Regions from separate parts of the Homo sapiens genome. Here region 2 is linked to region 1. A link means that fine-mapping ties the variant in region 1 to the expression of a gene that starts in the linked region. Tissue or cell type: spinal cord. Region 1 holds a variant in brackets; the other region holds the start of a gene. All regions are shown on one strand. Distances are from middle to middle.

Region 1 (8,111 bases):
AGATTTACAGAATTATTGAAAGGATAGTACAAAAGGTTCCCATATATCCCATGCCAAGCTTCCCATATGAATACCTTATATTGGTACAGCACATTTGTCGCTATTAATAAACCAGTATCCAGGGCCGGGTGCAGTGGCTCACGCCTGTAATCCCAGCACTTTGGGAGGCCGAGGCAGGTGGATCACCTGAGGTCAGGAGTTCGAGACCAGGCTGACCAACATGGGAAAACCCTGTCTCTACTAAAAATACAAAATTAGCTGGGCTTGGTGGTGCATGCCTGTAATCCCAGCTACTTGGGAGGCTGAGGCAGGAGAATCGCTTGAACTCGGGAGGCAGAATTTGCAGTGATCCGAGATGGCACCATTGCCCTCCAGTCTGGGCAACAACAGCGAAACTCTGTCTCAAAATAATATAATAATAATAATGTTAATAAACCAGTATCCAGTATTGATACATTCTTATTAACTGAAGTCCATGCTTTGTTCTGTTTTCCTCAGTTTTTCCCTAATGTCCTTTGTTGTTGCTGCTGTTGTTCCAGGATCGCATCCAACATGCCACATGACATTTATTAGTCAGGTCTCCTTAGACTACTCTTGGCTGTGACAGTTTCTCAGACTTTCCTTGTTTTTGATGACCTTGACAGTTGTGAGGAATACCGACTGGTCAGGTATTTTGTAAAATGACCCTCAACTGGGATTTGTTTGATGTTTTTTTATAATAAGACTGAAGTAATATGTTTTGGGGAAGAGGACCACAGAGGTAAAATGCCATTCTAACCATATTATATCAAGGGTACATACTATCAACATGATTTATCACTGTTGATGTTAACCTTGATTACCTGGCTTCAGGTAGTATTTGTCAGGTTTCTCCACTGTAAAGTTTCTTATTTTTTTTCCTCCTTTTCCAAACTGTACTTTTGGAAGAAAGTCACTACATGTAGCCCACACTTAAAAGTGGAGAATTGGCCGGGTGTGGTGGCTCATGCCTGTAATCCCAGCACTTTGGGAGGCCGAGGCGGGCATATCACGAGGTCAGGAGATTGAGATCATCCTGGCTAACACGGTGAAACCCCGTTTCTACTAAAAATCCAAAAAATTAGCCGGGCGTGGTGGCTGTTGCCTGTAGTCCCAGCTACTCGGGAGGCTGAGGCAGGAGAATGGCATAAGTAAACCCAGGAGGCAGAGCTTGCAGTAAGCCTAGATCGCACCACTGCACTCCAGGCTGGGCGACAGAGTGAGACTTCATCTTAAAAAAAAAAAAGTGGAGAATTATGCTTCCTCTCCTTAAGGGTAGAATATGTAAATAAATTACAGTGTTTGGAATTTTTCTGCATAGGAGATTTGTCTATTCCCCTCTATTTACTTATGCAATCATTTATTTATATCAGCCGGTCTCATAGATATTTGTTTTATACTTTGGGTTATAATCCAATACTACTTCAATTTATTTTGATGCTCCTTCCTTTTATGACCACTCTCTAGTTTTTAGCAGACTATATAGCTGTCATAAATAAGACTACATTTCCCAAAGTCCCTTGCAGCTAGGTGTGACCATGTGATTAAGTTCTAGCCAATGGGATGTGAGCAAGGGTCACACGTACAAATTCTTTCTTTTCTTCTCACTTGTTTGCTGAAATGTAGGATTGAAGCTAGAACTGGAGTAGTCATGGTGGAAAAGAAGATGACCTTAGGAATGGAAGCCACATAGTGGTGCACTAAGATAAGGACTTGGTCCCTGACCCTGTGGCCCTCCATTGAAACCCTGAATGTTGTGACTGTATTTTACTTGAGATAGAAAAAAATTTCTACCTTGTGTAAGCTTCACAGTCTTGAGTTTTCTGCTACTCCCTGAAGAACTTTGTCCTAACACAGTATGCATAGGGCATGTGTATTCTTGCAAGTGTGTACATATGAGTAAGGGATGACTCCAAGGAATGACATTGATTTTTAAAAAGAAAATAAGCCGGGCGCGGTGGCTCACGCCTGTAATCCCAGCACTTTGGGAGGCCGAGGTGGGTGGATCACCTGAGGTCAGGAGTTTGAGACCAGCCTGGCCAACATGGTGAAACCCCGTCTCTACTAAAAATACACAAAAAATTAGCTGGGCGTGGTGGCAGGCGCCTGTAATCCCAGCTACTTGGGAGGCTGTGGCAGGAGAATCACTTGAACCCGGGAGGCGGAGGTTGAAGTGAGCCAAGATCGCGCCACCACACTCCAGCCTGGGTGACAAGAGCAAGACTCCATCTCAAAAAAAAAAAAAAAAAAGAAAGAAAGAAAGAAAGAAAATACACCAGAATCTTCTGGCTAGTTTTAGAGAAGGGGTTTTTTTTGTGTGTGTTATATTATTATCATTAAAATGTTTGTAAAGATGCAGCCATGGGTAGTTGGATGTTGTTTGCTAGCTGTTTGATTCTCTGACTTCTTCTAAGATTGGTTCTTTTGTACAAATGTAAGGCAAGTTCCACCCATTATCCTTTCAGTAAGCCCTGAGGACATTTGAAATCTCTTGGCAGATAATGCGATGTTCTACTTAGTTATTTAAATTGAATGAGTCTTTTGCTGTGCTTTTGAAGGAAGAGCAGAAGAGATTTTTTGAGAAAGATTTAGTTAGAATAGTGTGCTGGTATTCCCTGACGTGAGGTTAAATTTGTGCATGTAAGGTCGCTATGGACTTTGGGCAAGGAAGAATTGTATTAGTCCTTAAAGCAGAGTGCTGCTATGGGCTAAATTGTGTCTCCCTTAAAATTCATATGTTGGCCAGGCACGGTGGCTCACGCCTGTAATCCCGACACTTTGGGAGGCCGAGGTGGGTGGATCATCTGAGGTCAAGAGGTCCAGACCAGCCTGGCCAACATGGTGAAACTATGTCTTTACTAAAATACAAAACAGCCAGGTGTGGTGGTATGCACCTGTAATCCCAGCTACTAGAGAGGCTGAGGCAGGAGAATTGCTTGAACCCAGGAGGCAGAGGTTGCAGTGAGGAGAGAGATCATGCTATTGCACTCTAGTCTGGGCGACACAGACCCCGTCTCAAAAAAAAAAAAAAAATTCCGATGTTGAAATCCTAACTTCTAATACTTCAGAATGTAATTGTATTTAGAAACAGGGTATTTAACGAGGTAGTTAAGAGAAATTGAGGTCATTAGGCTGGGCCCTAAACCAATATTACTAGTGTCCTTATAAGAAAAGGAAGTTAGGACCTGGCTAATGGGTAGCATAGGAGTGATTGGATTGTTGGAAGAGGAATTGGCTGTGAGCTCTATAGTAACAGCTGGATTTATCTTTCCATCTCCAGTGCCTAGCAAGGAGCTGTAGGAATGAATAAATGAATGCTTGAAAGAAAACCAGGATGAGAGAGATTATCACGACGCGAAGTGTCCGGGAGTCCTTCCCAGCCTCATCTTCCTGAGGTTTTCTTGAATAGTTGAGAGTTTGGGAATAAAAAGGGGAGGGGAGGACACCAAAGACAAAAGAAGAGAATTAGCAAAGGCACATGATTATAAAGTAACCTGATACAACGCTATGTTTTAGAACTCTGCTGTCTAATAGAGTAACCACTAATCACACGTGGGTATTGACATTTAAATTAACTAAGATTTAAAATTCAGTTCCTTAGTCATACTAGCCACATTTCAAGTGACCAGTGGCCACATAGAGCTAGTGGCTTCTAAATAGGACAGAACGGATGCAGCACATTTTCCCCATCATTACAGAAAGATCTGCTGGACAGTGCGCTTTCAGGGTGAGGTACGAAGGGCAGCACAAGCTGGAAAAGTGAGTGGGGTTGGATGAAAAAGGACTTTGTGCAGCATGCTTGGGAGCTCAGACTTGATCCAGAAATTGATGGGGAGCTATTGAAAGGTTTTTAAAATTATAATAAAATACATTCATAAAATTTACCATTTTAACCTTTATTAAGTGTAAATTCAGTGGCATTAAATACATCCATATTGTTGTGCAACATTGCCACTATCCATCTCCAGAACACTTCCATCATCACAAACTGAAACTCTGTAGACCTCAAACGATAACTTTCCATTCACCTCTCCCCCAGCTCCTGGTAACCACTCTTCTACTTTCTTTCTCAATGAATTTGACTATTCTATGGACCATATAAAAGGGAAATCATACAATACTTGTCCTGGCTTATTTCACTTAGCGTAATGTTTCAAGGGTCATTCATGTTGTAGCATGGATCAGAATTTTCTTCCTTTTTAAGGCTGAATAATGTATACACCACATTTTGTTTCTCCATTCATCCATTGATGAACATTTGCGTTGCTCCCACCTTTTGGATATTGTGATATTGTGGATCAGTGAAGTACAGGGGTGGTGGACATGTACTATGCACCTGAACCATCAATATTTCATCCTCTGGGCCACAGTGATTGGCTCAGAGGCTAACATGTGAGCCAAGATGGAC[C/T]GTATTAGAACCACTTTGGTACTATATTGGAACGCTTGAGAACAGCATTCTCTCTGCTGAGGTTGCTAAGCAGCTAGAATTTACACCTGGAGCTGCTAATCACCATCTTGTCACTACAAGGAGAGCCTTCCTGAGAATAAACCAACTTTAAACCCAGAGGACAGCAGAGTGAGAGTTGAAGATAGATGGACTACTGTCTTCATCTGAACACCTGGGTCTACTTTCCAAGTTACAAGAACCAATACATTTTCTCTTTTGCATATGTCAGTTTGAAATTAGTTTCTGACACTAGCAGTCAAGAGTCCTGAAAAACACAGATTGATACATAAAGATTTGCATTTTTAAAAGATATATTGATGATTCTGGGAAGAGAAGATTTGAGAAAGCAAATCTGGAAGCAGAGATACAGTTAGGAAGCTATTACAATAGACAGAGGCAGAGATGGCTGTGATATCAAGTGGGACAGTGCCAGCAGGGACAGGGAGAAGGGGATGGGGTTTAATGCATATTTAGGAAATGGGAGGCCCAGAACTGTGTGGCTGATTGGGCTGGGCACTCAAGAAATAGCAAAATGATCCCATCTTTCTGGCCTGGAGGTCTGGGGTTGGTGATGACATTGGCTAAGATAAGCAATATGTAGGGAGGTGTAGTTTGATGGAAAAATGAACTATTCTGAACACGTTAAGTTTGAGGTGCCTGGGGGATGCTCAAATCGAGATGCTTAGCAGAAATTTGCGTAAATGAGTTAGAAGATCAGATGAAAGATCAGAGCTAGAGATGAAGGTCTGAGAGGTGTTGTCTGGCCTTTAGAGCCATGGGGGTAAATTAGACAACTCTGAGTGAGTCTGTAGAGAAGAGCAGGGACAGAAGGGAACTCTACGACATCGGTGTTCAACGAAACTGTTTTTTGATGAAAGAGGAGTCCACCCAAGAGATAAAGAAGGAAGAGGCAGAGAGTTAGGAAGGAGGCACGGAATGTTACAAGGAGGCAGTGTTCAACCCTGTCAAAAGCAATGGTGAGGCCATTCAAGTGAGGCTGGACAGGGCACCTCAGAGGTCTCTAAGCAGGTGCCAGGTGAGAAGCAGTTTTTGCTCAACCTTGCCTTGGGGAGGTAGTGCAGTGCCATGAAGTCAGACTCCACCTCTGCCCTGTAGTGCTTGGGAGATGTTTGGCAAGTCTCTCCACCTCTCTGAGTCTCAGTCTCCAAATCTATAAAATGCAGATGGTATCCCATTTATGTAAGATTGTTGTGAGGCTTCACTGAGTCATTAATAAAGCTCTAATCCAGAGCCTGACACACCACAGGCATTCAATGCATCCCAGCCTCTTTCTTTTCCATTCCTTTCATATCAGGGATGTCCAGTGACCACATTTCTGTTCATTCTTTTGAGTTTGAGAAGAGGGAGGGCCACCTTGAAGTGTCTGGGCAGGGGCTAGATCTTAAGTCAGCCTCTTGCTCCTATAAAAGTTAAAATTAAGGGCGGCATGAGGGGTCAGTAAGCAGCAAGGAGGCATAGGGGAGACAGAAAATGGGTATAGGAATCTTGCTGATTGAGGATTGGAGTCCCGGGGTCGGTGAATGATCTGTGACTCTGAAAGGGTGGGCTGAGAAAAGCAGAGACCTGAGGGCTGGGGATGGAGCCTGTGCTGCCAAACAGTGGGCCACCAGTGGCCTGTAGGTATGGACCCCTATTCAAGGCAGAGGGCCATTCAGGAAGGCAGTACCCTGGCAGGAAAACTGTGGAACTGAAAGGGACTATTTGCCCACAATAAGGAGGATTTCAAGGGTAGGAGATTCTCCCTAGCAGGAAGTTTTTCCTATGCTGTTTTCTATTTTCATAGGAGATATAAGCCTGAACAGGTGGACTTGGGACTTGGAGTAATTCATACACACACACACACACACACACACACACACACACACACACACAATGTGAGTAACCCACATTATCATCCACATATCATGCAGCCTATAGCTGGAGTTACCCCTCCTTGTGTGCTCATGGAGGTCCCATTGGAAAAGCCTAGCTCAGTCCTACCTCACAGAAAGGGCAGAAGCAATACAAGTTTACTCAGATTTTGTTAATATTTTTATTCCAATAACCTCCAAATAATATCCTATAAAAATGTAAATTATTTTTTCTGTCATCTGTTACTTATGAAAAATATTATAACAACAATAAAGGAATCTTAAAAATGATCTAATTTCATATTTTATGCCAAAATGTGGCCAGGAAGAAAGGTCCCAGTGACTGTGGTGTCTGAAAGTGCAGATTTTCAATTTGTGAGCGCTGGTGGCCTCAGAAGGACTGACTTCGTTGGTCAGGCTTAAAGAGACTCTTTGAAGAAGGTGGGATAATGGATAAAGTTTTTTTCTTTTTGAGGATTTGAATTTTAAAAGATGTTATTTAAAGTTATTGCACATATATTTTTGTTCAATGAGTTGTGTAAATGGGTTCAGTCAATCAATATGATCATTTATATTAAAATAATGTTATTTCATTGGTTTCACACCAGCCCCCGAGAGGTCTAAAGAGTGAGGAATCTCTTATTCATGCACCAGAGACACAAACAACTAAGAGAAAGGTGGGAGGGGAAGTGAAGAAAAGCCATTCCAGAGAAGGACTAGGGAATGGCGGTTATGGTGTCACAGAATCTGCGAGAAACAGCACAAGGTAGCTTCCTAGAGTCCTGTGTGCTCTGTGGTACGGCAACCCAGGAATTCAGGGCTCAAGGGCAGCCCCTCAAATGAGTGTGTGATTTGCAGGGTTTTTAAAATTTATTATTATTATTATTTTTTTTTTGCACGCATGTTGTCTTTTAAGGACCTGGCTGTGATCCTTCTGCATATACCTCAAGGAGAGCTCAAAGAGAGCTCAAGAGACCAGGAAGGCTAGAGATCTCCCTGCAGTGTCTTGCCTGAAGCCTCTGGATGTTAAGGTCTAACTTTGTCTTTCTTACAGAGTTATACCTTGTCTAACCATATGAAAATATCAGGAGGCACAGAGTTTTATCACTTTTTTGTTTTGACAACCCAAGAACTGATTGCTCTGACAATTGTGCTCTGAATTAAGTGTTTAATCGGAGTACCAGCAGATGGCGCCATTTGTCATTTATTGACGCTACTACCCACGGCTAAAGCAGGGGGCTTCTTGCCTCTTTAATTTGGATAGTATTATAAGTAAAGTGTTTTCTACTGTTTATTATGCATGAGCCAAAATTCTATGAATGTGTAACATTTTCTCTTGTATTTCCTTTTTTATAACATCATTTAAATTCCTTATTAATAATTTAAAAATGTTCTGGATTTTAATCACTTTTCTCATCACTAAAATATCTGATGAAGAGATGTTTGTTCCCCTGCTGAAGGTGAGACAGAGGAAACCATCAGCAAGGAAGAAAAAAGAGAATCTCACTTTTAAACCGAGCTCTTCGCCCCTCTCACGTCACCCCATCTTTTCAGTTTAATTGAATAATATTTATTTAATTAATAAAAATATCTGCCTAGTGCAGGTTTCAGAAATCCAAGGCCAGAATAGGCTGCCATTAATAAAACAAGTTTTTTATATCCAAGTTTAATTATGGTGGTGTGTGTTTGATAGCTTGTTACTGTAAATAAAAGAGATAAAGGCAGCCCTTCACTGGAGTAGCTCGAGAGCTGTGAAATATGTACCTAATTAAAAC
Region 2 (8,111 bases), 870 kb before region 1:
ATTAAAGATGTCATTGATTGGCTGAAATTAATAATTCCCTGTTAATTCACAATTTATATTTTAGTGGTAACTATAAAATAAAGGCTGCATCAGTCACAAATTAATTTACATTTGTATTGGAAATGTAAGGGAGCATAATGGAAGTTTAATAGACATGTAGAATATTGGTCTCATCTTGACCCACTGAGTCAGAATCTGCATTTGAATAGGTGATTCTTGGGTATAATAAAACTTGAAAAACACTGTTCTGGACAGCTTTTGGTACATTTTAGAAGGGAGGTCTGTGCAGGCCCATTCTGTTGCTGAGAATTTATTTAGAGATTCATAGCCCCAGATACCTGCACCCCAAGAACAGAAGGGGGAGCCCTAATCCCCCAGTTGCCAGTTGAAAAACTGGTTATAGTTGCTTCCTGTTCTTCACAGGGCAGGTAATGTGAAATGGAGTATTAGAAGCAGCAGAAGTAGAGGAAGGAGAACAAAAAATACGTGCTACTCCTTCCCAGTGGGGTTGCGAGCAAGAGGAGAATCTGGCAAATCCCTGGGGTCTCAGAAACATACGGAGGCCACTGTCAGAGCAGGAAGCAATCAAGGGGAAACTAGGGAAGAACAGAGTCGAAATCTTGTTCTTCTACTTCTGTGTACTGTTCTGAGTCTCCCTGGTTATTTTTCATCTCTTTAATAAATTGCCTACACTTCTGCTTTCTCTTTTTTTTTTCTCTCAAAAGTAACAGTAGTAATAATGATAATATCTTATATCCACATGATGCTATATACTCTCTGGTATATAGTAGATATAACAGTCTTTTACGAAAGGCAAGTTTAGGCTGTTTTGCAAATGATAAATGTTCCATACACTTTCTCCCATTTTTAATTGGGTTATCATTAAAAGTATTTCTTGTTTTTCATTCATTTTGGCAAATTTTGGAGGGTTTCGGTGTGTTTGTGTGCACACAGGATAATTTGTTGAGTTATTGCCAAAGTGAATTGAATGAGGAAAGTGAGGAAAAATACTACCATTAAGTAGATCAACCCCCTTATTTTGAAGGTGACAAAACCAAGCCACAAGAGTTTAGGTGATGTGACTTGGATCCTATAGCAAGTGAATAAAACCAGTATCTCCCATTCTTTACATTCCACAGTACACTCTACTGATATGCATGGAATAAATTTTAGAGAACCTGTGAGCTAAATCTTAACCTTGTGTCCAAGACAGATCTCACCTAAATGGTCCTTTAAGAAGATAACTACTCTTACTATTCTTTAATTTCCACAGAAGCAGAATTTATAAGTTCCTGTGACTCATGAGATACAGTATGATTAAGAAGGGCTTTGAAAAGTGCAAAGCACCATACAAACATGAGAGATTGTTTCTAATAATGACCGGTGCCCATAAGCCTTTATTGCCGAGAGTGTCTTTACAATATCCAAACTCAGTGCCTCCTTCTGCAATGTGAGACAGTCTCTGTTTTGTTCAACTTTGGAATCTTTTCACCATCAGGTTCTCAAGCAGCTATCTCTGAAACCAACTGGCTTATCCTGACATGCTCAATTCTGAGTTTATGTTTCATTGTGTTTCACCTTTGCGCTTGATCTCCATGCTTTGACATGGTGGTGATTTGACAATACAAATGGCTTCCCAGACCCTATCTGGACCATCCACTTTGTTCCTTTGCTTTGAAAATGAGTCTAAATTTGAAGGAAATTGGATAAAGGAGGTAGGAAATGTACCATCTGGGCCCTTGGCAAACTGTGTTTTGTTTAAATTCTTAGTCTTGACAATTTGTCTCTCTTCTTTTCTGATTTATTTCACAGGGATTACATAAACTAACGTGGCCCATGAGCTGTGTAGCCCAACCGTACAGTGTACTACACTTTCCTCTTCTAAATGGGATTGTTGAAACCAAAGCCTGAGAGGAACTAATCCAAAATTTTCTTTGATTTCCCCAAAATGTCAAATCTCCTGACTTCTCTGACACCAATTGGATGTTTTATTCACTTAGACTGTGGGTCTATACCAGCTGACTCCATGAAAAAAATAGACAGGCCCTTCTGGGGCCAGGTTGAACTACAGAGTCAGACAATGAACAAAGATGTGCTTTAGATTCTTCAGTTACTGAAATTGAATAACTCTTATTTTCTTGAAAGCAGAATAAAAGCAAAGCAGATTCCTAGAGTTTATATAACATTGAAATAAACACTTAAAAACTGTATTCCTCCTTTCTTTTCCTTTAGGTATATTTCCTTTCTCAGATATTATAAAATCTAAAATCTATGGCTATGACCAGTTAATTTTTGTTTAATGAAAGGATAAAAAGTTCACTTTATTGACGAAGTCACACTTCACAAAAAGATGCTGTGCTCAGTATAATTTCTAATTCCTTTACTCAATTTCATTTTCTCCACCTTTTCAGGCTGTAAGGTCAGCCTGATGAAAGAAGAAGGCAGTAAAAAGAGACCTTCAGCTGGCCCGGTCCCAGGCCTGGTTGCTGATAACAAAAAGGGCTCTGAATTAGACGTTTAAAAAAAATCAGATAGATAAGAGTAGATATCATGCCTAGACTCTCAACCCGGGCTAAGCAAAGCCTGAGTGAGCTTGTTCAGGTTTCAACCCAAGTGAAGCTGGACAAAATTGTTCATTTGTAGCTGTTCTTTATAAAGTTGCATGCACTCTCTAGCCAATATTTTCCACCCTCACATCCCAAGGGAACCATAGTAATGATAAAAACAAGTGGAGAGAGTGCTGAATATCAGTCCTCAATCACTCCCTCCCATAGCAAACAACCTATACAAGTGTCATGAAAAACTTCCCTGAGTGTTGGCAAAAAGCCGCTCTTGCAGTGTGCTTACGAGTTTAGTTTTTGAGCATATTGGTTTATCGATGGGAATATTTGTATTCTTAAAATCACAAGAGGTTGGCATAAGAAAATAAACTGCCAGGGATATTTGAAATGAAGTGCATTGTTCTGCTCAATGAGTCACATTTACAGACAGAGCCTTTGGAGCTGCCACACCTCTGGCCTTCTACTCTGAAGACACAGTGAACAAGCAGAAAAAAACTAGGGCTGGGAATTCAGTTTGGGAGAAAAGGCAGCTAAGCTGACCTTTGAACTTTAGGGTAAGACCCTTGGGCAGCCACGTAATGACCAGCGCCATCCCATTCTTCAAGGAGAGCACCATACTCAAGCACTGCCTGTCAAGAGGGAGCAAGAGGGAAACTGCTCTAGAACAGAGGAGATGCCTTCTAGAAAACAAGGGTGGGGGAAAGAATTTTTACACTATAACCCGGGGCTCCTTCACTATCTTGTTTTATTTACTTCTCCTGACTCCATTCATTCAGTCATTCAACAGAGAGTTTACTGAGATAGGTGCTGGGGAAGTACTGAATGAAAACAGACTCCATCCCTTCCTTCATACAGCAGGAAGCTGACAATCAATTATACAATATAAATTTGACATTGTTACCATGATCATACTGCAAAGGTGAGTTATCTGATGCTATGGAAGCATGAAAGAAGGGAATTTGACTTAGTTATGGAGCTCAGGCCAGGCTTCCAGGACACAGCTGGAATTTGAAGGAAAAGCAGGTGAGAAGAAGCATGAGAAAATGATTCAAGCAAGACAGCAAGGGGAAAAAAATTCCCTCAACATCTGTCAACATTGCAGTGCAATATCAAAGCCCAAGTTCAGAAGACTCCAACCTTGCTGGGAAGAAGAGTGACATCACACTGCCCATGAAGATGTTGAAAACAGACAATGTTGGTGAAATCCCTGTTGAGAGCAGGGACAGACCGTTTCCTAAATGCTACACTCCCCTCCCCAGAAATGTTCCGAGACGGGGCCACAGCAGGGAAGAGTCACAGGTTTTGCTTGCTGTGGACCTCTGACGCTGTGAATAAAACTTTTTCTTTAGTTTTACAATAGATGTCACTGTGCGGCATTCTTAAACACAAAGAAGAGGGAGAAACGAGGTTACTAAGATAATTTAGTAACTAAGAGAGAACATGATATATTGAAAAACAGTGGAATTTGGAGTCAGTTGGTTCATTCTAGTACGATGATAATACTCCCAACCTTGAACAAGTTACTTAGATTTTTTTGAACATTAGTTCTGTCACCCATAAAATAGGCATAATAAAATCCATCACTCAAAAAATGTTAGTTTCTTCTCTCATTGGCTAATTTTCATAATCAGAATTTCCAAGACTCATTATTTTCATTTGAAAAGTACAAATTATACCTGCATCAGAGTATTGATATTTAAATGAGTTCATTTGTAAACTTTAAAGCATGAGGTAAATATCAGGTATTATGAATCAGTCATAAAATATTTGCGATGGTTACTATATATTAGATCCTGTTTTTGGTCCTGGAGAAATGGAGGGTTGACTGAAGCAGGGCCTTGCCCTTAGGAGAGAGCTGAAGGAGAAATCTATTCTTCTTCCTGAGGCAGAGAGAAAAGGTAGCAAGGCCAGAGGGAAAGGGCTGCACAGGCACCCAAGTTCCTGGCAGTTGGCCCTCTCTGGGGGATATCTGATATCTGACCTCCAGCCATCAGCTGAGAGCTTGCCCAGACTATCTGACCCAAGGGCTGTAGGGACTGGGCTGCAGAATGGATTTCTAAATCTTCAAAATAAACAGGCAAGGAAATCTTGCAACAAATGAAAAATGACTTGAGGGCAGTAGAAAGTACTTGTGCCAACTGATGGAGGAGGTTATGAAAAATGAGGAGAGGAAAATCACTATAGACTTCTGTGTTTCTACTGCAAGTGGATTGAACAGTCCAGATATACTGATTTCCAGCCCATATTTCCTGCTTTTAAGCTCCTTTGGTCTTATTTCCCTCTTCTTTCTGAAAAGTTATAAAATGAATGAAGGGCAGAATGTTTCTTGCCCAACCATGATTCAGGAGGCAGCTCAGCCACAGAACAGGCAAGTGTAGCATTGCCTGGAGGAAAAGGACTTGTAGAGGCAGGTCCCAGATGGATCCACCCCAGACTTTTCAAAGAAGACACCTCCTTCATCTTGTGTTCTAAAACCTTGCAAGTTCAGGAAGAAACCATCTGCATCCATATTGAAAACCTGACACAATGTATGCAGCAGGCTCAGTGTGAGTGAACTGGAGGCTTCTCTACAACATGACCCAAAGGAGCATTGCAGGTCCTATTTGCAACCTGAAGTTTGTGACTCTCCTGGTTGCCTTAAGTTCAGAACTCCCATTCCTGGGAGCTGGAGTACAGCTTCAAGACAATGGGTATAATGGATTGCTCATTGCAATTAATCCTCAGGTACCTGAGAATCAGAACCTCATCTCAAACATTAAGGTGAGTGGAAATTATGAAATTGATACTAGCATCCCATTTGATCAGACCTGTAGCCTTATTTAGAAGCTAACTACCCTGCCTGGTTTGTATTTGAGTAATACAGAGAACAGCATTTTTAAAAGATAGCGCCACAACGTTATGATTATGGCTAACTAAGCCAGTTTGTTCATCTAATTCTGTGTAGTCTCAGCTCACAGAGTGTTGATCTAGCCCTCTATTTTGTTATTGTTGGTTGCTACTAATTTCAGCTCTTTTGTTTTCCTACATGACTGTTTTTGGGGTAGCAACTTAGAAAAATAACAACCCATTGTGGCAACAAAGATTGAATATTTAACTGATGAATAAGCATGATAATGAGCATGCTTGTTAAAATCATATTGCTAGATTCCATCCTGAGGGTGAGAATTCTCAGGCAGAAAGGGTGAGAGTCTGCACGGTGGGCCAAAAAGCAAAATTATTTCTTTTCACTTGAATGTGCTGTAACATAATTGACTATTTTTACTTTAATATGGCAAGGGAGGATCATAGCTCTATGATGTAAGAGCCTCCATTTAGTATTGCTTTAGTGAAATCAGTAGCATCATAAGGTGTGGTCTTGAATGTGCCCACAGGTGTGACATGAAAAGGATTTGTTCCACAAAAGCTTAAAAGCCTTTCTCAAAATTGGGAAAACTATGAAGGCAAGCACAGACATATAATTAGTGTCCTAAAATCTTCCATATAATCATTTAAAGTTTTTTTAAAAATTTGCTCCTATGTTTTCCCAAAGTCTAGGGCTTTCTCTAAAAGAAATGGGTCTCTTCAAAATATTTCATTGTCTTTTATTACTGTTTAAGCATACCAGAAAACCAAAACATACAGGATTTACAAGTGGTAAAGTAAGTTTTTCTTTTGTCTGGCTGTAGGAAATGATAACTGAAGCTTCATTTTACCTATTTAATGCTACCAAGAGAAGAGTATTTTTCAGAAATATAAAGATTTTAATACCTGCCACATGGAAAGCTAATAATAACAGCAAAATAAAACAAGAATCATATGAAAAGGTAAGAATCCAGGATTTCATTCAATGATCTCAAGGGGAAAAAAAACACCAAAATATACTGTGCTCAAACGATAAAAGTGAGAAGTTAAGTAAAAACAAATCATCAGTATTAACAATGCAAATAATATTAATGGGCAGAATGTTATCAACAAAATATATGAGAATAAATGAATGCAAATTGTGCAGTAAAAAATGAGTCAAATGCCATAGCCTAAGTAGTTTCTCAGAAGATCTCTTTATTTTGTAACTTATGGAGTACTTTCTGAAAAGTTTGGTTGAGGATCAAGAACTAGTTTTATCCTACTGAGGATGAGCTGCAAAGGGAACAGTTCCAATTATGACTATACCCATTTACCATCCTGTCAGGAGCAATAAACATGCATGTCCAGACAGAAATATAAACCACCATGCATATAAAAATATGACTGCCATCTTATGCCATGGTGTAGATTATCAGAATTTCACATTAGCTCAAGTCCAGAATATTGTTTTAGGGGAATAAGGAGATTAGAAGGAAGGGAGGAAGGATGTGGGGATGTGGATGAGTAGGGGAATGGCTACCTTTTTTTTTCCACCTATAGAGGAACTTCACCTTGAAAGGCTCTCATAAGTTGCAGATCATGATTAAGCACCCATGATGATGTCTGGTACATACTAGTGTGCACACTATAAATAAATGATAAATAATATAAATGGTAAATCACTGTTTGAAGTCAACTGTGAACAAGAGTCCATTGCAGCTACCAGAAGGGCCAGAAGTAGAGGCATTGGCAACTTATCTCAGGGTTTCAGCAATGGAGTGGGTTTGAGATTGTAACTACATCTCTAACAGAATGACTCAAACATGTGGTACAGCTTTCCCCTTTCCTTATTTCTGACCCTCAGTATGAAATTTCCTAAGTCTGTTTCATTCTTAGCTCTCCTTCAAAGCTACTCTGTCAGAAATTGAATGGTATAGCAATCCAGATAGGTACCCCAATGTCCTGAAGAAGTTAAAGAGCCTGTGAAAAGCATTTGACCTATGACCAGATGAAAGCATTTGAGAATGCTTGCACATGAAGATAGGATAGGTGGGGGAACTGGGGTAAGCTGGGAAGAGTTAGTGTTTAAGCTCCAACTAAGTGCCAGGCATTTTACATATATTATTTAATTCTCACATAACTTAAAATTAGTTTCTGTGATCACAAATTAAAACACTGGGGCTTGAATAAGGTATGGACTTTGTCCCAAATCTAACAGCTAGTAAATTACAGAGCCATAATTTGAATGTCTATTTGCCTCCAAAACCCATGCTTTTTGCACTAAGCTTTGTTGTCTCTAGCTGTCAATAGAGATTTAATGCATCTATTGGGCCTTCAATAGAACTAAGAAGTATTGGAGACAACAAACACCAAAACCAGGTTGCCATAGGTAACACTTGATCCTAATGGAGGGGAGAGAAATAAGTAAAGCAAAAGTGAAAATATGAGTGAACGGAAAGACCAAAGGAAACAATCGTCCCTGGATGCTGTTCATTTATCTGTTGGATACCAATTCTTTAACCTCAGAATGTCAATTAAGCAAACAGTGAATGATCATTATGTACGGGACCACGCTAGGCACTTCAGAGAACCCAAGGACCAGCAAGGTAGTTCCTGTCCTTCCAAGTCTACAATGAGATGTAGGTAGGAATCATGGAAGGGGGAAAGGGTTAGGAAAAGTAGATAAGAGCTGAATTACTGTGGTCTATAAGGTATAAAGTAACCCCA

Evidence for each region. PIP is the estimated chance that this variant, and not a neighbour inherited with it, causes the effect.
Region 2: CLCA2 starts here. The variant in region 1 is fine-mapped to the expression of CLCA2 in spinal cord (GTEx, PIP above 0.99).

The regions. Positions count from the first base shown.
Region 1 is chr1:87,285,597-87,293,707 of GRCh38, forward strand. No RefSeq gene overlaps it. Among named protein-coding and RNA genes, the nearest start is that of LMO4, 39 kb to the right of the region's middle. The variant C/T (reference allele first, on the strand shown) is at 4,427.
Region 2 is chr1:86,419,113-86,427,223 of GRCh38, forward strand. CLCA2 (chloride channel accessory 2) reads left to right here and starts at 5,059. Exons shown (of 14, transcript NM_006536.7): 1 at 5,059-5,321; 2 at 6,227-6,364. The coding sequence starts at 5,136.